Linked DNA regions of Homo sapiens: region 2 is linked to region 1. Evidence: fine-mapped expression QTL. A gene starts in region 1. The other region holds a variant in brackets. All regions are shown on one strand. Distances are between the middles of the regions.

The links.
Region 2: its variant is fine-mapped to the expression of PPP1R14C in visceral fat (GTEx, PIP 0.95).

What each region holds. Positions count from the first base shown.
Region 1 is chr6:150,135,178-150,150,436 of GRCh38, forward strand. PPP1R14C (protein phosphatase 1 regulatory inhibitor subunit 14C) reads left to right here and starts at 7,867. Exons shown (of 4, transcript NM_030949.3): 1 at 7,867-8,321. The coding sequence starts at 8,016.
Region 2 is chr6:150,199,800-150,215,058 of GRCh38, forward strand. PPP1R14C (protein phosphatase 1 regulatory inhibitor subunit 14C) reads left to right here. Exons shown (of 4, transcript NM_030949.3): 2 at 14,945-15,028. Among named protein-coding and RNA genes, the nearest start is that of PPP1R14C, 64 kb to the left of the region's middle. The variant T/C (reference allele first, on the strand shown) is at 8,116.

The sequences.
Region 1 (15,259 bases):
CAGCTCACCGAAGCCTCATTTTCCCGGGTACCGCCCTGCCCAGATAATAAAAACAATCTTTTTTTTTTAGTAGAAGTGAGGTCTTGCTATGTTGCCCAGGCTGTACTTGAACTGCTGAGCTCAAGTGATCCTCCCACATTGGCCTCCCAAAGTGCTAGGATTACATGTGTGAGCCACTGCATCTGGCTGAGATTCTGCTCATGAGTAGGGCCCTGGAGGAATTGGTGACTATTGTCCTTTTGTTTACTATGGAAACATAGTAAAACCCACAGGAGCATCTTGGTAGACAGCAAAAGTGTGACTTCCTGTGATTTAAAATCACCACCACCCCCAGATTGGATCTATATTGGGGAGAGAGGAAACAGATCTATATTTTTGTATATTTGTATTGTAGACTTAAGAAATGTGTGCAGCTACAAGTGAAGATGGTCTCACTTATTCACTAATTTGGGGGCACCTGCTATGTGCTAAACATCATTCTTCTTCCTAAAAATATAACCCAATTAGCTGCATTCTGGTCTTCAGGAGTTTGCAATCTAATGGGAGGGACAGATGACAGCCTCCTTCTGTCCACTAGGTACTACTATTTGTCTCACACCGTTTTAGGAAGTGGAGATACTGAGGTGAACACTGACATCCTGTCCTCATGAAATTTGCCTTCTGTCGGGAGAGTAAGACAATGAACAAAGGCATATATAGTTTCCAAGCTGTCATAAGAGCGAGAAAGAGAAATAAAGAGGGCAGGAACATAGAGGGTGCAGGGAGAAGATCTGTGGAGGGAACATTTGAGCAGAGACCAGATCCCACACAGGTTTGGTGGGTGATATGATAGAGCCAGGGGTGGTGGCCAATAAGAAGCATGAGGGGGACACCTCCCTAAAACTAGGGACGTCAGGGAGAGCTTTGTCAGGGAGGTAAGGAGCACGTTCAGCCTGGGCAGATGGGTGTCTTAGTCCCTTTGTGCTGCTATAAGAAAATACCACAAACTGGGTGATTTGTGAAGAACAGACATTTATTTCCTTATGGTTCTGGAGGTTGGGAAGTCCAATGTCAAGGTGCTGGCATTTTCTGTCTTGTGAGGGCCTTCTCGCTGTGTCCTCATGAGGCAGAAAGGATGAAAGGGCAAAAGGGGAGAGGCAGCTCCTTTGTGCCTCTTTAACAAGGGCACCAATCCACTTATGAGGACTCTGTCCTCATGGCTTAGTCAACTCCTAAAGGCCTCTCTCTTAGTACGATCACATTGGTGATTAGGTTTCTACAGATGAATTTTGGGAGATACATTCAGATCATAGCAATGGTAATTTCCACTTGAGTTGCTTTAAATTTGAGGTGACTGCAGTCATCTAGGTGTTGGTGCCCCTGAGTAAGCAGTTGGACATAGGTGTTTACCTCCCATTTATTGGGGCTTGTTGATAGGAGCAATAATGAATTTGCTGCATAGAGAGTTGGAGCAGGACCCCCATGGAGATGGTTTCTGCTGTTCTCTTCCCATTCCTGAAGTCACGGTGTGTCCTTGGCCATAATTCCTTTGGGAAATTGCTGGAACCATGGTGAGCCAGTCCTCCCTTCTGTGTTTTTGGTCCCTCTGCAGATAACAGCAGGCATTGTCCTAGGTGCTTTATTCCAGTAACTCACTCAGCCCTCCCACACACACGCACACACAAGCACCACTGATCATGCTGCAGATGGAGAAGTGGAGGTACAGAGAGATTCAGTAACTTGCCAAGGTCACCCCGTACTTCAGTGGCAGAGAGTGAATTTGATCCAGGCAGCTGAGATCTGGGTTTGTGCTGGTGACCACAATACACTTGTTCTCAAGCTGGAGGCTCTCCCAGTTGCTGTCTTCTCATCTTCACCCTCTGGGCACTCTGGAGGGCATTTCCTAAGGGAGGCTGGAGGCCCAGCCAAGGTGCCTCTTAATGTCAAGAATATGCTTTCTCTTTGGTTCTTCTGTGGCACCTCCAGGAGGTCACACACGTGCCCTTGGTCAGCCATTTGGGGTCAAAGTTCTTCACCAGAACTCTGAAAAACTTAATAATGGTACATTGAGAATGCCTGGGGTGCTGGGCATGGAGGCTCACACCTGTAATTCCAGCACTTGGGAGGCCGAGGTAGGAGAATTGCTTGAGTCCAGAAGTTCCAGACCAGCCTGGGCATTATAGGGAGACCCTATCTCTACTAAAAGCAAAAAGCAAAAACTACAAAACAAAAAATTTAGCCAGGCATTGTGGCCTGCATCTTCTAGCACTTTGGGAGGCTGGGAGGTGGAGGATCACTTTAGCCTGGGAGTTAGAGGCTGCAGTGGGCTATGATCAAGCCACTGTACTCCAGATTAGGTGACAAAGCAAGACCCTGTCTCAAAAAAAAAAAAAATTAAAAAGAAAAAAACCCAGAATGTCAAACGTATCAATAACCACCCTGGAGTGTGCCATTAAGATGAAGGAGAACCAGGATTCATGTTCATAGGTGCACTGATGGCTGCCAGCAGTGGTTTGAACAGTGGGCTTTTTGCAAGAATGAGTTGCAATCCTTTAGTGGGTTAGGACTAACTTTAGTATGCTGGGACCAGCATTCTTTAAACATAAAGACACAGAGTAGATTGAGTAGGAAGTGTCAGAGTGTATCACATGAAATATGGGTGATATGGTTTGGCTTTGTGCCCCACCCAAATCTCATCTTGAATTGTAATCCTTGGGTGTTGAGGGAGGAACCTGGTGGGAGGTGATTGGTACGTGGGGGTGGTTCACCCCATGCTGTTCTTGTGATAGTGATTGAGTTCTCACAAGATCTGATGGTTTTATAAGTGTTTGGCAAGTTCCTCCTTCTCTCATTCTCTCTCCTGCTGCCTTGTGAAGAAGGTGCCTGCTTCCCCTTCTGCCACGATTGTAAGTTTCCTGAGGCCTCCCCAGTTATGCGGAACTGTGAGTCAGTTAAACCCATTTCCTTTACAAATTACCCAGTCTCAGGTAGTATCTTTACAGCAGTGTGAGAACAGACTAATACAATGGGTAAGTGTATGTGTGTGGATATATATATGGGTCATGACATAAAATGTATTTATTGTGGTTTGTAGTTAAAAAAATGTTTGAAAAACATTGGGCTTGAGTACTATTTACTGTGCTGGCCACCCAGCACAGTAACATTACTGTACTGTAATTACAGTACAGTAATTACTGTAATGTTTTGTTTTCTCATGAATTGCTGTAGCTATGTACTGATATACTTTAAATATAAAGATAATTGTGGAGTGCATTGGCACTGTATGTGGTATGCTGCAGATCTAAAGCTCTGGCCGTAGATCTGCTTGAGGTAATGATTTGAGGGGTCTGTGGCAGGTAGGTGGGAGTCAAAGCTGCAGGAAGTTGGAGCTCTAGCAAAAGCACCTGGGGAGGCTGTGAATGAGTAAGGAAAGAGCCCAGGGCAGAACTTGGGAACCACCTACCTTGAGGGCAGGGGTGTAGGAAAAAGAGCCCACAAAAAACACTCACTGTAATGCAATAGATAAAGAGGTAGGAGGAAAATCAGGAGGGTGTTGGTACCTGGAGCCAAGACAGGAGAGAGTTTGAATAGTGAGGAAAGGTTCAAGATTGTTAAATGTGGCAGAAGGTCAAGTTATATAAGCGCTGAAACGCGCACCTGTGCTTGAGCAACACAGAGCTGGCTGGTGACCTCAGTGAGGGCGCAGGGCTCCACGATGAGATGGGAAGACCTAGAGACGTGGGGGAAGGGACACTTCCTCCAGAATGTTTGGTGGTAAAAGCGAGGAGCACAAGAGGCCATTGGCTAGAAGGGAGGATAATTTGCTCCTCTAGAAACAAATTTGAACCTAGTTTTTCAGAAGGAGACAATATACCCCACATGTTAGGCTTACTGAAATGGGCAGAGGTATGTAATTTTTGTTTAAAGGGATGGACAAAGCTATGGTTTTTTTTTCACCCATTTTTCATCATGTCTGAACAGTGAGGTGAGAACTTACGTTAGTTTTTGAGACAAAATTTTAGACTTGCAACAATGATTGCTGTTGCTTTTTTTTTTTTTAATGCAAGCAACGGCCAAATTATTTTGGAATTACGATCCTAAATTGATCCCAGCCTGATACAATCAAAGGTCCAGAATTAGAAGGAGAAAAAGTGGAGAGTGAAACAGTAGCCAAAAGAAAAACTTCACTGATATACTGTCAACAGCTGTGCTGTTATCACTCTGTAAAGAACAATGAAATATTGGAATGAAAATGGAAAATGCTGTGGGTAACCAATGGAATCCTGAAAGACAGATTAAGTTTCTTCAACATTTATAATGAAAACCAGACTGAAAATAATTTTTAATTTGTCTTTTTGCTTCATCAAATCTTGGAGAGGATTCGGATATAGGCATCTTATCATTTGACATTTATTACTCAAGATAAGAAGATTATGTTCAGGTTTGTGGGTCTCCAGGATGCAATTATAACATTGTCAAAGTAGATTACCAGGTGTTGCATAATTATTGTGCCGTTTAAGGAAATTTGCATCTGAGTATAAACATGTGTATTTAATTATTTTCCTGGGGGGTGACAAAAGTTCCAGGACTCCTGATTAAGTCATCCATCCTGTCTAACAACCTTTGGGCATAAAGATCATATTCAGAGATAAAGGACCTATATAATTCCTAAACAAACAAACAAAAAACTTTGTCCAATTTGGGAAGCAAGTAAAACATAACCAAGCTAAGAAAACACAAAACTACGAAGAAAAAGATTCAAATGAAACATCCTTAGGCTGCCCTCTCATAGCAGGGAGTAATTGCCTTCAGGTAAAAGTTGATTCCGGACCATTCAATTCACTGAAAGCTATTCACTGTCTTAGATTAACCAGCACCTAAAAACACTTGACTAAATAGGCTAGAAATAAAAATGTTTTCCTTGAATAAATGTATATATTATTGGTTTTGTAGATGAGAAATACCACTGGTTTTGCCGAATTTAAATAGTCAGCTATGTAAAGGGTCTCTGGACTAGGAAAAATTCCTTTATTCCTAAATATTTTGGCTTCAATATTTGAAATCTGCAAAAGCAGTATTTCTATCTGTCAAAATGAGGCCATTAAGTTTTGATTATTCAAACCTGGAATGAAGTGTGTGTGTCTGGGGGTAGAGGAGATGATATGGACTTCACTTTGAATATAAATTACGTACTGGGTGGAGCAAATGGATTTAAAGAAAGAGGAACCCTGGTTCAATTCTATTTGCCAGTCAAGGTGACTCACTTGAACATCTGAAGGCCAGCGTACCTGTGGAAAGAGACTATTTCCTGGATTTTCTTCTGTGAGTCAAGATGCTTAAAACCCATGTCTTTTAGTATCTGTCATTTTGGAGTTGTAAGGGAAAATTGAGTTTTAAGCATAAAGGAAAAAGCATCTTATGCTGTGAGAAAAAAATTGACATCAGAATTTCTCAGAAAGAACTTAGTGAATTTTTTAAAATTATTTGACGTTATCCTTGAATGACTGATTTCGTTGTCCAAAGACTTAAAGAAAGGAGTTGGAATTCCCCAGACTTTGCCAAACTGTGGGATGGCACAATAGGTATTGTCAGGTCCCAGGGCCAGAATGAGGTAGAGATTTTATGTAGTTTCTCCTTTGTTAATAACATTTAAGCTGTTTTCGTTCTGATTTGCATTCTCCTGATTAGTGCAGTTGGTCAAAGCTGGTGCTAGCGGACTTGGCCAGATGTCTGGAGCCATATAAGCTGATTCTGTGTGGGAGATGCTGGGGCTGGTTCCTGCCCTCCTTTCCCTTCCTCCTTGCAGACAGAGTTCCATTTTGAGGTGGTCACTCTCTTGGCTGTGTGTTCGGGGTTTACAGTGACCCACCCTAAAGGCAGAGGGGCAGAGGTGGTGCAGAGACTGGTCATCGGTCTCTAGGGGCAATCAAGGTAATTCATCTCCCTTGTCCCTGATAGGCTCGGTGCAAAACCCATCTTCTAAAGGGCAGCTGGCCTCTTCTAGCGGGGCAGAGATCGTTCAGCTTTGACCCCTTTGTAATTATGGCAGGAGTCCAGGGCCCCACACCAGCCACCCTATTTCAATCTCCGCAGATCCTTCCCCTTCACATTGTGAGGCTTGACATGTCCCTGTGAAGAGCCGCAGGCATGGAACACTTTGGGAAAATCCCTATTCAGGCTCTCACTGGAAAACCCCAGACTGAGGGTACAAAGGCAATGGATCCTAAGCCTGGGTAGAGCAGAGCTGGGCGCTGGTGGATCGCAGAGCCTGAAGCGCCAGGAGAAACCTGCTGGTTACTTTTATTTTGTCTTTGTAGTGTCAGTCTAGAACCCCACACAGGATCTTCTCCATCATAGGAAAGTGTTCCGAGGAATTTGACTTGGTATCTATTTTATCTCTGAGAAACTTCTTTGAGTAGCTGCCAGTAACCTTTAGGGCTCTTTTATTTAAAAACAACAACAACAACAAACAAACAAAAAAAGTTCATGGCCAGGCGCGGTGGCTCACACCTGTAATCCCAGCACTTTGGGAGGCCCAGGCGGGCGGATCATGAGGTCAGGAGTTCGAGACCAGAATGACCAACATGGTGAAACCCTGTCTCTACTAAAAATACAAAAATTAGCTTGGTGTGGTGGCGAAAGCCTGTAATCCCAGCTCTTCAGGAGGGTGAGGCAGGAGAATCGCTTGAACCCCGAAGTCAGAGGTTGCAGTGAGCCGAGATCTCGCCACTGCTCCCCAGCCTGGGCAACAGAGAGACTCCGTCTCAAAAAACAAAACAAAACAAAACCGTTACTAAAAGCCGCTTACTTGTATTCATTCGGACGTCTCTGTGGTTTCTATCAGTTCCTGAACAGGAATGTATTGTTGTGTACAAGAAGAATATGTTAGTGTCTCCCTAATTTTACACATGCAGTTTTCTGTTTACAACTTCCCTCCCCACCTTATTGTCCTAACCCTTCTGAGAAGCTCCTTCATGTGTAACTACTAGGCTGTGATGTTTTGCAGTAGAGTCAGGCAGTGCTGTTGCCCTCCTGGGTGGAAGGGGCTGTTTGGAATGGGATGGAGAGAAAGCTGGCAGTGCACGGGACGCAACACTAGAAATGTGAAACCAGGACCCTGTCGCCGACCCTCTTAGAGAAATGTTTACTGTCTGGATGCCCCCAGACGCCTTGCCTGAGCGCCGTCACGCTTTCTGCCCTTTGGATACGAAGATATCCGAATGCTGTGCCCATGATTAAGCAGACGCTTAGTAAGGAAAGAAAACATTGGTCTGGAAATAATTTCTCAAGCGCCGTGACTGCCTTATTGCACAAACATCGCCTCTTCGATGTTTCTCACAATCCAGAGAGGAAGTGGCATCCATCGTGGCATGAATAGGAATGTGTGTTTGGAGCCGTGGGGCGGGGCTGGAGGGGAGGGGACGCTACCCAGCCAACAGAGGAGACGGTGGGGCTAGGAAAACCTCCTGGGGGAGCCTGCGGCGCGGTCCTTTCCTGTGTCCCCTTCGCTGCGGGTCCTGCCCGGGGCCGCGCCAGGTGGAGGCCCCGAGAGGCGGCGCGTTTCCTGCGCTCCGGGATTGCGGGAGAAGCGTGAGTCCCTGTCTCCGAGACTAGAGGCCACGGACACCCGCGCAGGAGCATCCCCTGGCACCCCGCCCCACGCCCGTCCTTCCGGAGTCTACACATCGGCGACCTCCCGTGTCTAGGCGCACACATTTCCCGCCCCGCGGAGACTCCCACGCCCCGGGCCCTCTCTGCCGCAGGCGCCAGATCCCGCCTCTGGGGGCTGGACCGAGAGGGTCCTCGGCGGCTTCTTTAAGGCTGCGGTCCCCGCCCCGTCGTCCTCCCCGCCCTCCTCCCTCTCGCCGCGGCTCCTCCCGCCCTCCCAGAGCAGCCGGGCGGCTGGGCGCGCGCGGCGCAGAGCAGGTGCCGGGGAGCCCTTCGCATGCGGCTGCCGGGCCGGAGGTGGTAGCGGCGCCGGGCGCGCTCCGCCCGCCCCTCCTCCGGGCCGCACTGAGGCTCGGGCGCGCGGGGACATGTCGGTGGCGACGGGCAGCAGCGAGACGGCCGGCGGGGCCAGCGGCGGCGGCGCACGGGTTTTCTTCCAAAGCCCCCGGGGTGGCGCCGGTGGCAGCCCCGGCTCCAGCAGCGGCTCAGGCTCCTCCCGGGAGGACTCGGCGCCCGTGGCCACGGCGGCCGCTGCAGGGCAGGTTCAGCAGCAACAGCAGCGGCGACACCAGCAGGGAAAAGTGACAGTGAAATACGATCGTAAGGAGCTTCGGAAGCGGCTGGTGCTGGAGGAATGGATCGTGGAGCAGCTGGGTCAGCTCTACGGCTGCGAGGTACCTGGGCGCGGGGCTGGGAGGGTCGGGGACCTCTCTAGCTCCTCTGTGCCCGCGCAGTAATTTTCCCGGGCTCCAGCTCCGGGGCGCGCATGTCCCTGACTCCCGGGGACCAAGTGCCAGGAGCGAGGCGCGGCGCCTTCTCTCCCCCGCGGTGCCCTCTGGCGTCGGGCTCAGCGGTTGGGACGCCCCTGTCTGGGTTCGGCTGCCGGTGCCCGGGGATCTGCGGGCCCCCTTGGTGGCCGTGGGGAGGGTTGGGTCCCGCGGAGCACAGTGCTTTTCTCCGAGCTCCGGGCGCCTCTGGGCTCCAGCTGCAGCTGCGCAAAGCGGGGCTCGGAGGGGCTCACTCCAGCTGCGCCTCAGCAGCGGTTGGGGATACAGCAGCCAAAGAGAGCAGCGCTCACTGCTGGGATCCGGGCAGCCCTGATTTTTGTGGAGAACGAGCAGGGAAGGAAGGAAGCTGCCTCGTGGAAAGGAGAGGTTCTGGGGATCTCAGAGGCCCCCTTGGTTCTTGAAATTCCCCGTGAAAATCCTGAGATGGAACGCTTTCCGCTTTCCAGCCAGCCCCGACGGTGTCTCCATAATTCCGCCCTGCATTATCAGAGCTGCACACGTTGTGCTTTGTTGAAGCCGTAGTTTTTCCTCTCTAAGCTCAGTTACTCCCATTGATGGGCGCAGAATGAGCATCTGGGGCAACCTCGACGGGTGCCTCGGTGGAAGGGCGGGAGCCCTGCGGGGGGCCTGCGGGATCCCGGGATCTGTCAGCTTCAGGCTCCCAGCTCCCCTCTCCTCCACGACATCGTGACTTCCCAAGGTCCAGGGACTAAGGTCATACACAAGTCTCAGGGACGTGTATACATTTGATTTAGGGAGAAATATGTAGAATAAACTGCAGCAAAACGACTGAAGCCAAAATGATCTCTCATGAGCATCTTGAATAACAGTTATTAATTCTAAATGAAGTGACCTCCTCTTAAGGGAGTGGAGTTTGGAAAGGGTGGAAGCATGAAGGGGTTAATAATTAAGAATGTGGCTTCTAAGCTAAAGCTAGGTTTGTGTTCATTCAACTGTTGTGCTCTTCAACAGAGATGACAACCAGATGAACTCACAGGCTTTACCACTAATGTCGGGTGTTCTGTATTTGACACATTTCATGGCCTGTTGTGAAGACACGTTTTCTTAAACACCCTCATTGCACAAGAAAACAGCATACTCGTTACTGACTACTGATAAATGATTATAATATAATGAAGCTTGACTGTATGACTAATGGGGTTGTAAAAATGTGTTGTTTCTCCAGTCCAGCTCTTACAAAAAGCTAATTTAATTGCATAAATAAAAACTGGCAAACATAAGAAGTATTCATGAGATTTTTATAGGAAGTTGGCAAAACTCTGTAAAGAAACATTATTTGATGTAGATGGGATTACTGTTGGATGAGTGGATGTGCTCAGTCCTGCCTCTGTAGAATCCAGTTAATTTTCATTTATTTCATACTGTTTTTTTTTTCTCCATTTGGGATTTGGAAAAGATTCGAATTAATAGAAAAAGCATTGTTGAAATTAACAGTGCACCAGCATGGTTCTTTTTGTGGGAGACTAATTAGGCTTAGATTGGGAAGCTAGAAAGAGCTCTACCCACTGAGTAGCCTGATAAACAATATATTTAAAAAATACTTCAGAATAATTAGAAAAAATGGAGGTTTGATTGTTTCCTGTGTGGAACATGTAGGTTAGGTATATATTTTAAAGGGTAAACATGAGCTTGAATCTTTTCCTTGTATTGTACTTTTCTTCTTGGGTTTTAAATCTTCAACCCGTAGCAAACAGCTAGACATTTGAAAGGGAGGTTTTTGTGGTGAAATAATTCAAGATGCTCTATATGCTGCCTGCATGTCATTAACGTGGCAAGTATTTTTCTTCAAGTTGTTTGTTCAGTCATTGTAGGCTGAAGGAAGAGAAATAATTAGGTTGTTGGCAATTTGTAATCACTATGCTGGTGGTGTACCTCCATTTAATAATAAAGAAACATGGGCAAATAAGTAGCCAAATAAAGGCTTGTCTCTTTGCATCTATTTCTCTGCTGATAGTGCTCTATTTTTAGCATTGGGTTCTCTTGTTGAGTAACCTTTCTTTGTTGATAGCTTCAAGTATTTCAGCCTCTGGTTTGTGAATCAAGAAGGACGCACCCTAGCTTACAGCTCCGAACTTCATGCATACGAAGATTAGGAAATGTCCTTTTTATACTTAAAAGTGGTAATTCTTTCAAATGTTTAGCCCATGAAAGTGACACAGCCAATTTCCCAGCCTTCAAACCTCAAACCTGCCAAAGGCTTGAGTTATCTGCTGAGTTGGGGTAGAATATGAACACATCTTTAATTTCAGAAGAACTTGACCCAAGCAGGTTAGGAATCAGATGACTTGACCTTTTCAGAATAGAAAATAATCTTTTGGAGCAGTGTAAAGTGATGTATTTAGAAAGAGGAAGAGGAAAGAAGAAATACACAGAACCACTTTCTGTCTGTGTTTTTTTCTGGAAGTGTGCAGTGACTAATCAGTTTTGTATGAGAATAATGTCATAGGGGAATTTATTACCTACCTACTAGGTGACTAGGTGCTCTTCTAGGTACTTTGGGCTAATTCATTTAGTCTTCATAACAACCCTATAAAGAAGATGTTCTTTTTATCCTTGTTTAAATGTAAATAAAGAAGTGAAGACTCAGAGAGGATTAAAAGGCTGCTTCAAGCTCATGTAGCTGGTGGGTGGGTTGGGGTTGAGGATGAACCCAGTCTGGAATCTGAGTCCACTGTATACCCATGAGGCCTGTCTGTACCGTGCAAGAGAGCAAATGTAGGTCTACAAGACATCTGTCTAAATGTTTAAAACTTATGAGTTAAACTAACAACATTTGTATAAAATTTCTTCTGTCCACTGATCTTGACAGCTACATCTTCATAATGACCTTGAAGTCTAGGTTTGCATTTTGAATTCAAAATGTTACTTCCCAGAGTCATGAACTGAAATGCAGTTAGGAGACTGCCCTGGCCTGGGTTTCTTCCCTTTTGCTTCCCATCCTTGGTACAGTCCCACCTGGTAAAGGACACTGTGTCCACTCGCACGCCCAGTCTTGGTATGCACCTGCCACTCCTTGACCATGATGCCTCTGCACACACCAGTGGTGATGTCCCCCTAGGCCAGAACAGATCTGGGAGGAGCTTGTTCATGCCCTAGAAGCTACTTGGGATTTGAGAAGGGAATTCTGGGGACCCGGATCACAGACTAAAACCAAGTGGAGGGGCACTGGTTCTGGATAGATGTGTCCACTTTGTCCTAGGAAGTCTTCAGGAAGACAGGTTATGGCAGGAGTGGGGCCCGGAGATGTGGTCCCCTCTTACCCAGTCTAAGGGCAGCACTGTAAAATACCACGTCAAATAGCCTTTTGAATACGTAGATAAGTGCTTTTATTGGATTCCAAAATGATTTGTTATGTGCTTATAGTTCTTTTCCATCTCATCTTCTCTTGGGAAGGCTTATACAGGTACATTTTCAGCTAGGAATTTGATTATAATGTAACCATTAGACTAAATCTACATCTACATCCACATTTAAGGATTTCTGTTTAAAGACCTTTTTTTTTTTTTTTTAATCTCTTCCAAACCCTGGTGGGTTTTTTTTGTTTTGTTTTGTTTTTGTTTTTTTGAGATGAAGTCTTTCTCTGTGGCCTAGGCTAGAGTGCAGTGGCGCAATCTCAGCTCACTGCAACCTCCGCCTCCTGGGTTCAAACGATTCTCCTGCTTCTGCCTCCTGAGTAGCTGGGGCTGCAGATGCGTGCCACCATGCCCGGCTAATTTTTGTATTTTTAGTAGAGACAGGGTTTCACTATGTTGGCCAGGCTGGTCTCGAACTCCTGATCTCATGATCCGACTGCCTCAGCCTCCCAAAGTGCTGGGATTACAGGCATGAGCCACCGCGCCCAGCCAACCCTGGTGGTTTTTAAGAGCATTTGAAATCTGGCATAATATCTACTTTAACAAGTACTGCAAGATGACTTACTGGATAAGTCATATGAATATTTCCAAGTTTGCCCAGCATCAAGATAACATCTGTACTTCCAGTTTTGCAATTCAATTTGCTTTGGAAATAAAAACATGTTGCTAAGCTCAGATGATTGCAATGCCCGTAGCATCCTAGCCATAAACAGGCTTGTGTACCTTGGGTACTTGCTGTGTTGTTCTGACTGTCACCTTAGTAGGTCTTTCCCTTTGCTTCCAGTGTCTGCTTTTTATAAAATGGTTCCTGACTTATTATACCTTTCAGTCTTCCCTGACTCCCCATTACCCCCATTTTATAAAAACTGTCTTCTGAGAGATGGTGGTGACACAGAAAGAAATACCCTGTTGATTGCTGCCTGATACATCTGGATATATAGATTGCTGCCTGACACATGGATACAGAGAAACAGAGAGTCATAGGGTACCACTTAATCTTACTGTATGCTAAGGAAAAATATTATAAAAGTAATCTGAAACATAACGTCATTAGTGTTTAAATACCATGTTTTATTCCTCACTTTCTGAAAAATGATTTTATTTTTCTAAATTTGTTTCATAATGCATTTATGAGTTGTGACCTGCAATTTTAAAAGTACTGCTTCTGAAAGGGAGAAGCCTAAACATGTGTAATAGAGTTAGCAGACACTGGCCGAGTACTTAGCACGTACTAGGCAAGGTTCATGTAATCTTGGCAACAACTCTGAGACCCCCATTTTGTGGAGGTGGAATCAGGCACAGGGAAGTTAAGAAGTTGCCCCAGGACTCTCAGCTGGGATGTGACAGAACAAGGCTGTGGCCAGGGAGTCAGGCACACCTTAACAAATGGCCTGTCCTGCCTCCTGAGACAGGGCAGAGCCTGGCACCTATGTGAACCCCATGGTTTGCCTGTTCCCAGATGCTGCTGTTATACCTTGTAAATGGACTGTGAGTGCATGTGGAGGACACCACTGTTAGCGGGTTAGTTCTTGCACCTGGATGAGGCCTCTCCTTTTACATGCAGATCCTGGATTTCCACAGACTTTTCCAGGTACAGTATCACATCAGCCGGCTTTGCTACTTTATTAGCGCTCAAGCTGGAAGGTAGAAACTGCTACTTAGAACTCGTCTTGTGGATTGTTTGGTAAATCACCATTTGTTCAGGTATTTGAGGACAGGCTTTTAAACAACAACAAAACCCCCTGAACTCCATAAACTCAACCTGTCAACTACTAAGGAATAAATTACACATGCAAAAAGTCAGTGGATAAAGCCAGGCATGGTGGCTCTAGCCTGTAATCCCAGCACTGACGGATCGCTTGAGGCCAGGAGTTGGAGACCAGCCTGAGGAATATGATGAAACTCCGTCTCTACAAAAAATACAAAAATTAGCCAAAGATGGTGGCATGCGCTGGTGGTCCCTGCTTCTCAGGAGGCTGAGGTGGGAGGATCACCTGAGCCCGGGGAGGTTAAGGCTGCAGTGAACCAAGATCACACCACTGTACTCCAGCCTGGGCAACAGCCTGCCTCAAATAAAAAGAAAAAAAAAAGTCAGTAGATAAAAGAATTCTAAATTGCCAAAGGAAGGAAAGAAAACTGCTTAACACATTCCCTTTGGAACAGTGGTTAGGGAAATGCGGGGTGGAAGCAGTGGTTACAATGTGTGCTTTGAAGTGCGATGAACCTGAATTCACATGTGGCCCTGTCATTCAGTGGGTATATGTGATTAGGCAATTTCCTTCACCCCTCTGAGCCTCACTTTCTCCATACATATGTGTGTGTGTGTGTGTGTGTGTGTATGTGTGTGTATATTTCAGACAGTCTGACTCCTGTTGCCCAGGCTAGCTAGAGTGCAGTGGGGCTATCACGGCTCATTGCATCGTTGACCACCCAGGCTCAAGTGATCCTCCCACCTAATTTTTTTTTTTCTTTTTTTTTTTTTTTTTTTTTTTGTGGAGACAAGGTTTCACTGTGTTGGCCAGGCTGGTCTCGAATTCCTGGGCTTAAGTGATCCGTCAGCCTCAGCCTTCCAAAGTGTTGGGATTACAGGTGTGAGCCACTGCGCCCGGCTACTTTCTCTGTATGTTGAAGGAAATCATCCTGGTGCCTTTGCAGGGCTGTCAGGAGGACTGATTGGTGAGACACCAAGCATAGTACTTAGGACATAGCATGTCAGTGTTGTTATTGGAGCCACAAGCTGCCACTAACTGTTGGTTATTCTCTATGATGGAGACAGAGGAAAGGGGTGAAGAAAACAAGGTATTCACATCTATTTGGTGCAATAATTTGGAGAAGAGTATAGGGTTACTTTAGGGTCAGGGGTGTTGGTGTATGTTTGAACTTGAACATGGGCAAATATTCTCTAAACTGTTCCTCCTGTTTCTAGAGCCTTCCTCATTCTCTATGTTTTGGTGGATTTTTACATATGTGCAGGGAAGTTAGACTGTAACAACTTGAAGGCAAGGAACTGTCTTAATTTTCATCATTTAAAAGTTCATAGCGGGACACAATTCTTCAACATTTAAGCATTTGCTTGAATGAATGAAAAAGGATCAATGTTCAGCAAATGTTTAAAAGTCATTGATGTTTCTGTATCTGAACTAATTGGTGATATTCCTTTATCATAGACATGGCGAGGGCAAAAGTCAATCTGTGTTTTTGTTACTGTAGTCATATCACATTCTTGCATCCTTACAGCTTTATGTCAGTGCTGTTGGAAAATACACCTTTCTTCATTGACTTACTTGCTCCAAACAGGAACTGAAAGGTGGTAATGGTAGCCAATTGACTTTGAAGTTTAGGTTGACAGAATTCTTTTGCAAATGTGATCTTCCCTGAGTCCCACCCACTGTCTTTTCCTTTGCTCCTAACGTGCCCCTGCTACACTAGTTCTGCCTGCTGTTCTCATCT
Region 2 (15,259 bases), 65 kb after region 1:
TCAAGGTTACAGTGAGCTATGATTGTGCCACTGTATTATAGCCTGGGTGACAGAGCGAGAGCCTGTCTCTAAAAAAAAAAAAAATCTGTTCTTTATACATTACCCAGCCTTTTGTATTTTGTTAGAGCAGTGCAGATGGACTAAGTCAGATACGCTCTGGAAATGGATTTTCCAAGTGGGGAATAAACAACGAGGAAGGTAACTCTGTGTCATTTCCACTTTCTTACACCTGGGGTGCTTCACACTTTAATTTTTGTCACACCTCGTGTAATCCCCTTGGTACTCTTTAACATTAATCTTGAAGAACACCTTACATTTTTGGTAGCATTATTGAAACCAGTTGATATATTAATATTTGAGGGCTTTTATAGGATATATATATATACACACACACATACACACACATGTACACAACACACACACACACAACACACACATACACACATACCTGTAGGATGTACAATGAAAAACCAGTTAACTTTCTGAAGTACAGGATTTTAAATAGACTCTATTTGAGCCCTGGAGATTGGCAGTAGTCTCGGCTACCCCTCATGGTGCCGGGGTCCGAATTACTCGCCTCTCTGGGACAGCTCCCTTTTCTCCCTCCCTTGTGATCTTGCATCCAACCCTTCCTTAACCAAGTCTGCAGACTTAGGTTTGTCCTCACCCTAAGGTGAACCAGCCAGCTCCTGTTCTCAGTCTGGGGAGTGCTCCTTTTCCACTGCTGAGCAGAGACTGGAGCAGGAGACACAGTGATGCGTCTCATGGCCCTGCCCCTGGCTCTCTTCCCTTTGGACACACCCCTAGGTGCAGCTGTGGCCTCCTCTGTAACAGGTCTGCAGAAGAGCAAGATTAGAAGCAGCCATATCCCCTACATTTGTAACAGGAGAGGCCCAGACCTCCAGCTGGGGGATTAACATGTTCTCCAGAAATGGCTAGTTACTCCCAAACTTGCTTCTTTCCTCCAAGTCTTCACTGAGAGCCTGAATCCATTCATATCTGCCTCACAAGGAGTGTGGTCCCCTGAGTGTGTGAAAGCTGTCGTCATCCTCTAAGTTTCCATGGAGTTTCCTGGGCTCCAGCTGGCTGTGGATACCAGGGCTTGAATGTGTTGGGTGCCTGGAGCCGCATGTCTGAAGGGCTCTGCTCTCCTCCCTTGCTGCTCCAAAAGTCACGGAAGTCAAAAGGGAGAAATCATTCCCCAGCCATGCTGCATCCTGAAAGGCACATAGCACAAGTTGTAGGGGCCATACATTTTGAGGTCAGATTGTCCAGGTTTGGAACTAAGGAAGCGATCGGCCCTATTGGGCAGGATACTCAGACATTCCATCTGTAAATAGAGATGATGATAATACTCACCTCAGGGAATTGTTTGTTATTTTATTTACAAAATGATTATCGGGGTCATGTGTCAGGCGCTATCCCAGGCACTGCTCTTGGTCCTCCAGTATGGGGAGGCAGACTGAGAAATGTGAATTGGAAGAGTGTGGAAAGTGCAGCGAAAGAGAGGTGCAGGGCATTCTAAGTTTCCAGGGCTGGGAGGTTGACCTCATCACAAGTCTGGCGAAGACATTTTGCTTTAGGAAGTGATGGCTGACACGAGATAACAAGAAGAGTGTCCTACACATGCACCCAGCACGTGCAAAGGCCCTGTGGAGGCCTGGCTGGGGAGTGTCCTGAGGGATCGGAGGAGACCAGCGGAGTTAGAGCTCAGGGAGTTGGGGTGAGGCATTGAATGGAGAGGAGGCCGGGAGCCCAGCAGGGGAAGCCTTCCAGGCAGAGGTAAGACTGTTGGTCCTAAGACTGGTAGGAAGCCACCCGTGAGTTCTAAGCTGGTGAATGACAGATCTGTGTTCTTAAAGTTGCTACTCTGGCTACAGAGTGGAAACTGGGATGGCGGAGGCATGAGGGTGAGTTTATGGAAGCCAGTTAAGAGGCTCCTGCTATAGCTTATGCAAAAGATGATTTAGCTTTCACTAGGGGGGCAGTGGAGGTGGTACAAAGTGCAGGTTCAGGAGACGGTAAGCCATAGAATTGACAGTTATGGTGATGGATTGGATGGTGGCGACAGGGAGAGGAGGGGTCAGGAGTGAAGTATTCCATGAACCGTCACATTGCCTGCATAAACATGCATTACAGGTAAACGATTATGGTAATAATTTACAAAGAAGCATGCCCTTTGCTCTGCTCATTTCACAAGGCAGCTCTGGTTAAATGACTTTTTATTTTGGACTGGCCTCATTCCCTAAGACCAAAGGCAGCTGAGCCTGTGTGCCCCGGGGGCCTGCCCTCTGACCCTGGTGTAGCCTTGCATCAAGCGTGAGCTCCTCTCTCGCCTCTCTGCTGTGTGGTGTGAGGAAGGTAGTGCAAGGAATGTTCTAGCAAGTTTCTCATCCTCATGCAGAACATCCCTGGTGGGTGCCCACCCCACAACAAGGCTTGCCAGCCTTGAGTCTCTGTTAATCTCTGTGTCCCTCCCCTGTACCCCCACTCTGTCACGCAGGCTGGGTCCCACGGAAGAGGCACTGCCTGGCTCCGGCTGGCTTTTCCCAGATCAAGCCCACACCTCCTTGCCTCAGGCTGTCCTGGTGTCTGGCTTTGCTTCTCCCTCTCTCATTGGCACCCTTGCTGTTCTTAGGTTTGTCCCTTTCTCATTGGCACCCTTGCCGTTCTTAGGTTTGGGGCAGGCCCGTGTCTTGTCAGCAGCAACCCTGGCTCCTCTCAACCAGGAGCTGGAGTCCCCATTGGGCAGAAGAAGCTTCGGCCGACTTTGCCGCTCCTTTGCCGCCGGGACAGCCCTGCAGGCTCTTCTCTGGGAGGGTCCCCATGGTGCCCTCCCACACAGCCTGGCCTGGTCTCAGGGCTGAAGCTGAGGACCTGGGTGTGCCTCAGTTGGCTGAAGGTCATTGTATGACTCACACCTGGACCTTTTGCCCAGCCCTCGGCTGTAAGAAGAACCAGCAGAGCCAGTCACAGGAAGGCCTGGCCCTCACCTTCCTGGGTTCAGCCACCACCAACACATTAGTCTTGGTCTTTTGTTTTGTTTTGTTTTAATTTAATCACTTAATTTTTTAAAAGCATTTTAGATTTACAGAAAAATTGAGCCAAAAACACAGAGAATTCTCATCTACCCCTTTCTTTCTCCTCCCTCCAGTCCGGTTGTCCTTTTTCTTAACATCTTGCATTAGTGTTGTATCTTGGTTACAATTGCTGAGACAATCTTGCTACATTATTATTAGCTAAAGCTCATCATTTCCATTCAGACTCACTCTTTGTGTTGTACATCCTGTGGGTTCTGGGGTTGTGTGTCATTTTCCTCTAATTGGGTTTTGGCAAATGTGTGATGATATAGATGCACCCTTATAAGATCACACAGGTTTTCTGGCCTGAAAATTGCCCTGTGCTCTGCCTTAGTCATCTCTCTTTCCTCATTGGCCCCTGGCAATCCCTGATGGTTTTACTATCTCCATATTTTAGTCTTTTCCAGAACGTCCTGTAGTTGGAATCATGCGTATGGCAACTTTCCATTTTGGCTTCATTCACTTATGGATCTGCATTTAAGGTCCTTCGTGTCTTTTCATGCTTGATGGCCCATATCAGCAATGGTCTTTTATACTCCAAGTGCAGTGTGTCTGCTCACCGGCTGGAGGCCTTGCGATGGGATTCACAATTTCCTCTCAGTGTCTTCCAAGCGGCTTTTCCGTATCATCTTCTCAGGCTTCTGTGCACCTGCCCGTACTGGACATATTTGGCCATTGCTGATCTAGGAGCCTTCCCGAGGCAGGAGGTGAAACGGTCTGGATTTCGTGTTCTGTGTTAGGAAATCTAACACTGCAGCAACCCCGAATGCCTCAGTCATGAGCAGTTGATAGTGCAGGGGAACCGTCTTCTCTCCAAGAATTGGCTAGAACGGGCTTCTGCCCACTGCTTTTATTCCATCATCGGGTAATTTGAGTGTTTCCAGTCTAAGAGAATTCTGCTTGGCCCTAAGCCTTTCCACTGCAAATCTGGATGTGGACCATCTTCTATCAGAGACAGCTCAGGCTCAATCCCTAAATTAATGGCAAGCAAGACGTAGACAGGTGTGACTTCTTAGAGACAGGCTGGACTGCTGCTGCTCTGTCCTTGGGTGGCGCCAGCCCTTCCTTTATTCTTTCCCAGTCTTCTTATCCATTGCCTGTAGCCCAGGACCAGTGCCAAGCCTGTAGCTTCCGCATGGTGTTCCTCTCCCTTCCGGGGATCTTCATGTAGGTGCTGCACGGAGAAAGAAGGGCCCTGAGAAGAGAGGCTGCTGTCGGCACAGGAGCCGTGAGGGTGGCGGCCGCCTGGCCACTGTGTCCAGTGCTTTCAAGGTGTTCTCAGTGTCCTCGTTTATGCCACGGCTTAGAAGATTGTCCTTGCCATCTTTAGCAACTGTCTCAGCCGTCACTTATTTTCACTCGTCTTACGAGGACCAACCTGCCGACTTTCTCGTCACGGGGGCATTGTTAACAACCAGCTGTGCGTGTTTAGTGTTCATAAGCAGAGCAAAGTGTGATTGTCTCCAGGAAGCTCTGCATCTGGGTTTTTTTGCTGACATTTTCTTTTCTTTTTTTCTCTTTGAATGCTGTGGTTTTGAACAAATCGGTAATGTGATAAGTCTTCACTTAACGATTTTCAGGCATCAGGAGTACACGATTCCCTGGAAGAGACATTTACATGGAATATTTATTTATTTGAAGAGGAATCGGATGTGCCCAGTCAACTTAGCACCCACTGAGGTCCTGTCACCATTTGTTGAGTTTGCACAACGTGCGTGGGCATGATTGTGCCCGATTTCTATCCAGCCCCGAGAATTAGCTAGCAGTCCCCATTTTACAGGTGTGGGAACTAAGGGTTAGGGGATGCGTTACCCTGCCCCAGCTCTCACGGGTTGTCAGAGGCAGAGATGAAACTGAAACCTGGGTCTGCTTCTCTCCAAACTCCATGCTCTGGGCACAACACCACTTGGCCCCTACCCAAGGGACCGACTCTGTGCTGAGAAGCAGGGCAGCCTGGGGCATACACGGGAAGTCGGAGGCTTCAGTCGCTTTCTTCCCATGCTGTGCTCTGTTCACCAGACTCCCTAGGGTCCTCCCATTGCAGGAGGAAGTGGCCTCTTGAGCCCTTTGAGATCAAGGCTGGGCATAGAACACAACCTCTGCTCCAACTCAGAGTCTTTTTTTTTTTTTTGTTAAACTGTGTCTGGAGCACTTTGATAATCTCTCCAGAGATAGTCATTTTTGCTAAAATGAATTGCTAAATGTAGGGGAGAGATTTGGGGGCACGAACTAAGCCTGCCCTGGGTGCCAGTGATACTGGCAACTTCCCTGGTGGGTGGGAAAGAGAAACCTGCCTGGTGGGTGGGTTCAGGACCTAGAAAAGACCTCCTCAGCCTAGTTCCTTGTTGCTTTGCCGCCGCCCCCAGGCAGTTCAGCCTGGGCTTAGTCAGTGTCTAGCAGCCTCACTGAACTTCTGGGACCAACAGCCCCTGGGTACTTCTCTTACCACCTGGTCTGCATCGTCAGTGGCTCACACACCCATCACACTGGCCTGCTGCTGCTGTTGCATAGGTGTGAGCTTGGTACTTGTGATCTTGCAAAGTGCTAAATGGCTCACCCAACTACAGTACCTGATGGAGCTCTTGAGATACCAGTTTGCTCTCTGAGGTTTGGATCAGCAGTGACCCAGATAAGAGTTCGTTTGTAAGAACAAAATATATATATCATGCTTGGGAGGCTGAGGTGGGCGGATCACTTGATGTCAGGAGTTTGAGACAAGTCTGGCCAACATGGTGATACCCCGTCTCTACTGAAAATACAAAAATTAGCTGGGTGTGGTGGCAGGCACCTGTAATCTCAGCTACTTGGGAGGCTGAGCAGGAGAATCCCTTGAACTTGGGAGGTGGAGATTGCAGTGAGCCGAGATAGCACCACTACACTCCATCCTGGGCGACAGAATGAGCCTCCGTCTCAAAAAAAAAAAAAAATAATGGAAATAAAAAAGAAAAAGAAATATATATATCATGCTACTCCCTAGTTAAAGCCAGTGTCATCTCTTCCCAGCTTATTTCTGTGGCCTCTTAACTGGTCTTTTCGCGTATGCCCTCCTTTCTAACAGGTAAACCATAACCCATCATGCCTCTGAAAGAATGAGAACCCATCAATGGCTTTTCTCTTGCTCACGGTACAAGTCAGAGGCTTTACAGGGGCCTCTGAGTCTCCACATGCTCTGTCCCTTCCCCCACCATGGCCCCAACTCTGATACAGTGACCCCGGGCTCCTGGCAGCTTCTTAGACACAGCCTGGCATTACGTGTTTTCCCTTGATGCTGTGTCTTTAATCAGATACCTTTCTCGCTGAGCCTTACCCTGTCACTGCCTGACTTAAAATTCCAGCCCCCATACTCCCTGTCTCCCCTGCCTAATTTTTCTGCAAAATATTTATCAATCTTTGCCACTGTACGTATTGTACTTATTTGTTTATTGTCTGTCTTCCCCCATTAGAGTTTAATCCCCACGAGAGCAAATATTTTTGTCAATTGTTTATTCCTTAACCCTGGCATCTAGGACAGTGCCTGGCAGGTAGTAGGTGCTCAGTAAATCGGTGCTGCAGGGGTTTGCCTGGTGTTCTGAGATCCTGATGTAGATGTGCCTAGTTCTAGAATAATCTGACGTAACCCGTGATGTGCATCTTCATGTGTGAGCACTGGTATTTGTTTTACAGTGTTGATTTGTGAGACAATGCCACTCCTGTTCACTTGTGTTGGAATGTGTCTTCATGAGCAGGAGGAAAGGGAGGCGTTCTACACGGGGCATGAGGATGGTCCCTGCCGGGAGCTCTCCTCTCTGCCGCAGCTGTCATTTGCATCTGCGTCAGTGCCCCAGAAGTGAACCTTCGTAGGATATAGGTAGGTCAGGACCTGCTCTCCTGGGTGACAAGAAAGGCGATTCCTGTAAATATTATGTAAAACATTCCTTCACTTCACCATGGAGTCAATGGAGTCAGGTTCAGTCAGGCTATTTTGATGTTTTTTTTTGTTTGTTTCTGTTTTTGTTTTTTTTTTGCGACAGAGTCTCGCTCTGTTGTCCGGGCTAGAGTGCAATGGCATGATCTCGGCTCATTGAAACCTCTGCCTCCCGAGTTCCTGCGATTCTCCTGCCTCAGCCTCCTGAGTAGCTGGGATTACAGGCACATGCCACTATCCTCGTCTAATTTTTGTATTTTTAGTAGAGACAGGGTTTCAACACGTTGGTCAGGCTGTTCTTGAGCTCCAGACCTCATGATCTGCCTGCCTCGATCTCCCAAAGTGCTGGGATTACAGGTGTGAGCCACTGTGCCCGGCCTATTTTGATGTTTTTAAAAAGGGCTTTGGGAGGACTTTGCTCTCTGGCTCTAAGCAAGCTTTAGCCATTGGTTTAACTTTAAAAACAAATGTGTATTAGGGAAATACTGGTAATATAGGATCCCACTGGAAAGGCATATGCTTGTTTACCCATGCTACTTCTGTCTAAGGCCCAAGGTGAGGCCATCCTACCCCAGCCACTCTAAATGGCCTGGCCACCTGTGCAGATGGGTGCCCGGTGGGGCTGGGCCCTCGATTCGCATCAGGCAAGCTCATCTCCATGCCTTGCGTGCTCCCCAGCTTGTCAAGCCTCCATCTGTTTCGTTCTTCACTCCGGCATCCCATGTACCTTCCTCAATCTGGATTTGGGGACATGCCCTCTGGCCTTCATGAGCCACAACTGTAGAGGATATAAGAAAATCAAAGTTTATTTCTCTATTTTTCTGGAGCACTCCTTCCCAAAACAGGATAAATACATGAAGATGTAAGACCTAATATGTCTTAAAATGTCTATGGTTTTTTCTCTACTCTTGATAGATAGTCTGAGAATGTCTTAGTTCATTTTCTGTTGCTGTGACAGAAGACTACAGACTGGGTAATGTATACAGAAAATAAATTTATTTCTTTTAGTTCTGGAGGAAGATAATCAATGTCAGCAGGCTTCCCAATGGAAGCCAAGAGCAGGGATTCCAGAATCCCAAGAGGAACCAATTTCCAACCTCAAGGCCTGGGAAGTTCAAGGTCGAGGGGTCA[T/C]ATCTGGTTGGCTTCTGGTGACAGCGTTCATCCCGTGTAATAGCATGGCAGAAAACTGGAAGGGCAGGCAAGCGCTTGAAAAAAGAGATGGGGCAAAGGGGGCTGATCCACTTTATAACAACCAGCGCCTCATGAGAACCAACTCAGTCTCTAGAGAACAGTGTTAATGCACGCATGAGGGTGTGCCCCCATGACCTAATCACCTCTGAAGGTTCCCATTACCTCTCACTCAGTACTGTTGCCCTGGGGACCAAATTCACCCTGAGTTTCGGAGGGGTCAAACCACATCCAAACCATAGCAGGGAGGATGTAGGCCTTGAGGGTGGAAATGGTTTCCTCTCGGGTTTCTGGAATATTTGCTGTTGGCTTCCATGCTCTGTTGCTATAGGGAAACCCACTGACATTAATTCTCTATCTTCCATGTGTGGCCTGGTTTTCTTCTGAAAGCTTCCAGGATCCTCCCTTTATCCCCAGTGTTCTGACATTATATAGTGATGTGTCATAGGGTAGGTTGGGCCCCTTGTTAAGTGGGAACATTTTTTTTTGCAGATTCCAGGGCTGATTTAAATATTTAATGTTATATTATTTAAATACATACCACTTAAAACTGGGTATAAATTCCTTATGCTATGGTTATAAAAATCACATCCAAATTGCAAATTAAACATAAAGTACCAGCTAATGAAACTCAAATGCACAACATCCCTTTGCTGTGATGGCTGGCTTCACTCCTTTTGTCACTGGAATTAGGTACAGATTGCCGTCTCTCAGTGTCCTTTGAGTGATAGCGTTTGGCTTCACTTGGCGTGAATGAGTCATTTATATATTAAATCTACCCTGTGGCTTTTTTCTCATTAGCCACAACAATTAACATAATTCTGCTTGATGCCAATGTGTAAACACAGAGCAGCCCGGCACAGCGTGGTTATAGCACGGCTGTCCAGACTATTCTTAGACTGTGCTTGCTTACAGGAATTATTTTGGATTGTCATTACAATGAAAACATGAGATGTAAATGTTTTCATAGACAGCTCACATAGTCCCAAGGATTCAGTTCTTTTTATACGCTTCCTATGCCAGTTTGCTCCCATAGGCCTATAGAAAGATGAGCTATAAGAAATTGTGGCTATTGTTCAGATGAGTGTTTGAACAGGCCATAATAAGCTGACATTTGCCACTCCCCACCCCTGCCACCCCACGTTTCTCCATCAGCTGCCACAATTTGCACAGGAGTTTAATCCCGTGTTACGTTGCCATCCCTATTTTGAAATGGAGACGGATGAGAGCTGTTAGCCACAGTCATTTCCAGGAAGCTGCCAAGCTATGTCTCCTAGAGCTTGGAGACCATGATCCATCTTCAGGTGAGGTTTTAGCTTGAACATTCCTGCCTGCTCCCTTCACTGCTGTGGGCAGGGGTGAACGTTTATATTTTTTAAAAGCTAATGTGACATCAGACAGGGCTGACAGTGTAAACTTTCTGGCTAGTTAGAAGTGTGTGTATATATCTGTGTGTTTATTTGTGTATGTGTGTATGTGTGCATGTGAGTGTATGAGTGGTGTGGAATGGGTGTATTCATGTGTGTGTATGTTTGTGTATGTGTTTGTGTGTGTGGATGTGAGTGTATGAATGGTGTGGAGTGTGTGTATTCATCTGTGTGTATGTTTGTGTATATATTTGTGTGTGTGTATGCATGTGAGTGGTGTGGAGTGTGTGTATTCATGTTTGTGTATTCATCCATGTGTGTATTCACATGGAGTGTATGTTTGTGTATGTATTTGTGTGTGTGTGTGTGCATGTGAGCGTATGAGTAGTGTGGAGTGTGTGTATTCGTGTGTGTATGTTTGTATATATATTTGTGTGTGCATGCATGTGAGTGAGTAGTGTGGAGTGTTTATATTCATGTGTGTGTATGTTTGTGTATATATTTGTGTGTGTGTGTGTGTGGATGTGAGTGTATGAATGGTGTGGAGTGTATTCATCTGTGTGTATGTGTATATGTTTGTGTATGTGTGTGTGCATGTGTGTGTATGAGTGGTGTGGATTGTGTGTATTCATGTGTGTGTATGTCTGTGTATATATTTGTGTATGTTTGTGTATATATTTGTGTGTGTGTGTGTGTTGTCACTGCGGGCCAGCTGTGTTTCAGGACCCTGCTTTGCTTGCATTTCTGCATCCTGGTACCTGAGCCTGTTCTGAGCTTCATCCGTGGCATGCCCAGCGCCAGGTTCTGCAGCGCTTCCCAGTGCAGTGGCAATGCGGAGTCCCACTGCTGCTTGCAAGTTGGGGCAAGGGGGCTGGTGATGGCCAAGCCTACACTGTGTGTTGGTTTGTGAGGTGTCTTCAGAGCCCCGGTGTGCTCCCGTCATTACTGTCCTTCTCCAAAACCTCTCAGCCTCAGAACCTGGATCTTATCTTTACCTTTTCTTTCCCCCGATCCCTCATCCAGTTCATCTCCAAACTCCATCTGTTTATTCCTCCCTATTATCACTATTTTAAAATCTTATTTTTGCCAGGATCATCTTCAAGCCCTGTTGCTTCGCACCTGATACATGACATTCCCACAGCCTCCTGCCTCCTCCCTGTTATCCCGGGCTCCGCAGTGGGGCCATCTCTTCCTTCTGTCATTCCCCTGTCTTGTTCTGGAGCCATGGAGCCTTCAGTGTGACAGTCTCTGCAGGACAAGGGGAACCGGCAGCCTATGGGCCAATGGGTTTTGTTTATCCTACACAATATTTTAAGAAGTTGACGGACAGCTTTAAAAATTGGAATTTTTTTACATTAAAAAACTCTATTTTCAGTTATTCCTGAAAACGTAGAAAATCCAGCAGCACTGAGCACATATTCCTAGAAGGTGACAGGAGGTGGGAATGGCGTGTTCCCTGCTGCTTTCCCTCAGGCCATGTTTTCTCCAGTTTGCTGCACTCCTCACTCTACTGTATAGCCCCTCAGCCTGCTCCATTTCTGTCACCTGTCTGGCCCCCATCGACGTGCATATTTGCAGCCCAGAGCTGACTGGCTTCCTGGCCAAGGACCTTTCTACACCCACATTTAGAATTCATCTTGTCTCTTTGCCTCCTGCTACCATTTTGCCTCTTGGGAGTGCTCTCCCTTCCCTCTAAACCTGTTCAAATCCTGTCATTCCGCAAGGTCAGTTCACCTCCTCCCTCCTGTGTGCAACTTCCCTGCCTGCCCCTGGCGGAGTTTTCTCTCTCCCTGAATCACTAAAGCGCTTCAGGTTTGTCTGTGGCTTTGGGGCCATTGCATGTCATTGTGTTTGTCAGAGCTGTGTTTAGACAGCCCGTCCCCCAGTGCCAGGGCCTCACTGTGGCTGACACACAGTGCCTTGCACTCTGCGGACTCTGGGTTCTCAACAAATGTACGACAAGAAAGATGTGTAGAGGTGATCCAGGGCCTCGTGCTATGGGTACCAACAGGAGGGCCTCTCACTAATGTGGGGCAGGGAGTAGCTGATAACTTTCCCCAGCAGCTGTGAAGACAGTTGTTTCACTTTTTGTCACCAGAGCCACTGTTTAGGGACACACCTTTAATGTGGGAAAATGCCCAAACACAACTAAGCTCTGGGACGTCATGGTGGGCCATGGGCATGTTCCCTCCTTTGTAAGTGATTTGATCTATCACTAAGGTCATTCAGTGATACTGCTCTAAGATCAGCATACAGAAGATAAAGTTAAATAGGACTTCAATCAAATTTAGAATATTTCCATACTTCTCATTAAGAATATTAAGTACCAATTTACAGGATTCTCTACTTGGTACTAGGTGCTGTCTTTGCTTCCCAGGACTCTCCCTCAAGAGCCTCTGGGTCTCTATGTTCTTCTCACCTGGGTTTTGTTTCAGCTTCACTGACATTCAGAACACCCGGGACGCATGCTGAGCTGGGAGCGGGATGCCTTTCTCTTCCTATGCCTCTGATAAATCAGGGTGGGATTTCTGAGAAGCAGCATAGGTTGGTAAAAAGCGCAGATGCCTAATGGCTGTTAACGATGACTCAATCACTTGAGGTTTTTTCCCCAACCCTTGAGATCTGGGCTTTGTTTGCATCAGCTTTCTGGCTGGTAAAACCAAGCTCAGGGTTTCTCATCACATGCCCTTGGGTAGTAGGAGTGACCTTGAGATGCCTGGCATTTTTTTCTTTACTCCTGTCAAGCCCCTTTGAGAGGGGAAGGGGCTTTGCTTCCCAACTTCTGGGCCAGAGGGCGAGTGTACTCTGGGGTAGCACTGTCCAATAGAGCTTTCTGCTACAATGCAAGTGCTCTCCATCTGTGCTTTCCAGCACAGTAGCCACTTGCCTCGTGTAGCTATTGAGCACTTGAGATGTGGTCATTGCGACTGAGGAACTGAGTTGTATTTCATTTTAATGTATTCAAATGTGCTTACCACATATGCTTACCATATGGGACAGCCCAGATCTCAGGGGTTGGGGAAAATGGGTCAGTGCAATACCTAACAGAGAGCCGTGCACAGTCCTAAGGGGAAGATGCCTAACTGAAGATGCCTACTGTGTAGGGCGAGGCTCTACACTGCTATGCAAGTCAAAGCCTGTTTGGCCTAACTTGGCTGGCGTCAAAACTATTTGAATTATATTTGCAGAAAAACCCATTGCTGTGCTGTTCTGCGGAGGGCATTAGTTACTAATTGTTCTCTCATTTCCTTTAAAAATAGCAGACACCAAGCTCCCTTAGCTGTGATTTAAGGAGCCACAGTGGTATAGCTGGCGAGTGCAGTCACGAACCGCATAACAGCATTTCAGTCAACAATGGACTGCATATATGACAGTGGTCCCATAAGATTATAATACCCTGTTTTTAACGTACCGTTTCTATGTTTAGATGCGCAAATATTTCCCACTGTGTTACCGTTGCCTACATTATTCCGTATGGTAATATGCTGTCCGGGTTTACAGCCTAGGAGCAATATAGGCTGTGCTATACAGCCTGGGTGTGTGGTAGGCTACGCCATCTAGGTTTGTGTAAGTTCACTCTGTGATGTTTGCCCAACGATGCTCCTAGCCATCGAAAGGTCATCCTTCAGCTTTATTATCATCAAAGCGTTTCAACTTCCTGTTTCTACATCATCTGCTTCTATTAATAGCTACATGATTGTTAAGTACAAATATGAAAATTATGTCGAGGAGTACAAAATCTTTCTTCCATTAGGCAGAACCGCACAGATGAGATCTAAAACGTTCACATTGATAAATACTGCTTTTGAAGTGGATTTTTCCCCTTAAGAGCCAAGCAAAGGATCAAAACGGAAATTCTCCACAGAAACAAGAATAAATCACTAGAGAGGTTGTTTCTGGAATTTTCCTGCCCATTGAGGGCCTGTTCTTGGAGCTAATGTCAGCGAGGATAGTGTATCATATTCCTTGACTTCCTCAGTATACTGGGGTCCTCACTTTTGTGTTGTAACACACACACACACACACACACACACACACACACAAGAGGTTGAGTACTATTACTGAATAAATGCACTTTAGTAGGAAGGAAACATTCAGAAAGTCAGCCTCTTCTGGGAAGCCAAGACAAACAGCTCTTGGAGCCAAGACACAGAGAGGCCACACCCAGGGAATGCCCGGGTGTCCCCAGTGTCCCCATGTACACCTTTCTCTCTAGCTCCTGCAGATGCTTCTCAGCCATCCCTGTGGCTGGAAGGAGTTGGGCTGCCATGACTCCTGATGAAATGCAAAATTGCAGGACTCTCTTAAATGCTCTTTTATTTTGACATTTTAAAATGCTATTCTGAGAGGTATAGAGAAGACTTAGGTAACAGAAGAGATGAGAAATAGCCAAGATCTCCTTTGAAGTTCAGATTCCAAATCAGTGGGGTCTTTCACCAAATCCATCTGGCCCTTCTTCCCTCTTTTTGGGCTAGAGGTCTTTGGTGGCAGGAATATTAAACTAGACCCACATTGGCTGCAACAATGAAAGAGGTTGATTCACTCACTGATAGGCAGGCTTCAGAGGTGGTTTGACACAGGGATGTGGTGACTTTATCTAGAACCCTGTTTTCTTATTCTCTTCAGCTCTGCCTAACGTGGAGTCAGCCTCATCCAAAACAGCCTTTCTTCAGGGTTGTATGGTAGCCACCGGTAATTTCCGGTGCCACACTTCCTCGGTTCAGAGGGAGTGAAGGGGACGTTCTTGTAAAAACAGCGCCTTTTCCCAGAGCCCCCTTAGTTCTTAGTTGGACCACGTGTCTTCTCTTAAATCAGTAACTGGGGCTAAAGCCATACTGATGCCCCAAATCCCATGGTGGAATCAGGTTTTCCATAGACCCAGAGCTGTGAAGGAAGATGTGGACCCCCAAATAAAGATTGGGGTAATCACCCAGCAAAGGGTGGCTGTCAGATAGGAAACTGTCATCTCCCGGCTCTATCATCTGCCAGTCTCCCCTTATATACTTACAGATGCAGCTTAATGCTAGAAAGTAGAAAATTCTCATTTTTTGAAAGATTACTTTTATGGCTTTGTGACTCTTAATTCTCCTTTGCTCCCCCTCCTCCTTCTCTTCTTTTCCCCTACTCTCCTTTTCCTTCCTTCCTTCATTTCCCTTCTTCATCTGTCCCCATCCCTCCTTCCCTTTTCCTGTCTTTTCCCTTCTTCTCCTCTTTACCCCTTCATCCTGTTTCCCCTTTTCTCTCTTTCCTTCCCTCCTCTCCCCCTAGCCTCTCCTTCCCCCTGCTTATCTGTCAGCCCTTCTCAATTGATGATCTAGTTGTTTGTTCAACTTAACCTAACTGGTGGGGTACAGTCAGGTTTCTTACTAAATTAAATGCCTTCATATCCTCCCACTGCCCCCCAGGAAGAAGAAATGCCAGAGGTAGAAATTGACATTGATGATCTTCTTGATGCAGACAGTGATGAAGAGAGAGCTTCAAAATTACAGGTAAGCAGTTTCCAAAATTGAGAACCTTCTAATCATGGACACTTGAGAGTCTACTTGGGTCTTCAGTGCTTGGCATCAACTGATTCCGCCCTGTGGTGGTGTTGGCACCAGGACCTGGGCCATTTGCAGAGAGGAAAGCAATGGGCTGCTAAGTGTTCACTCTCTTAAACTGCCTCTCTGAGGATAAAGCAGCCCTTGACTATAGTCCATTTTCAAAGCGCCTTATGGGTA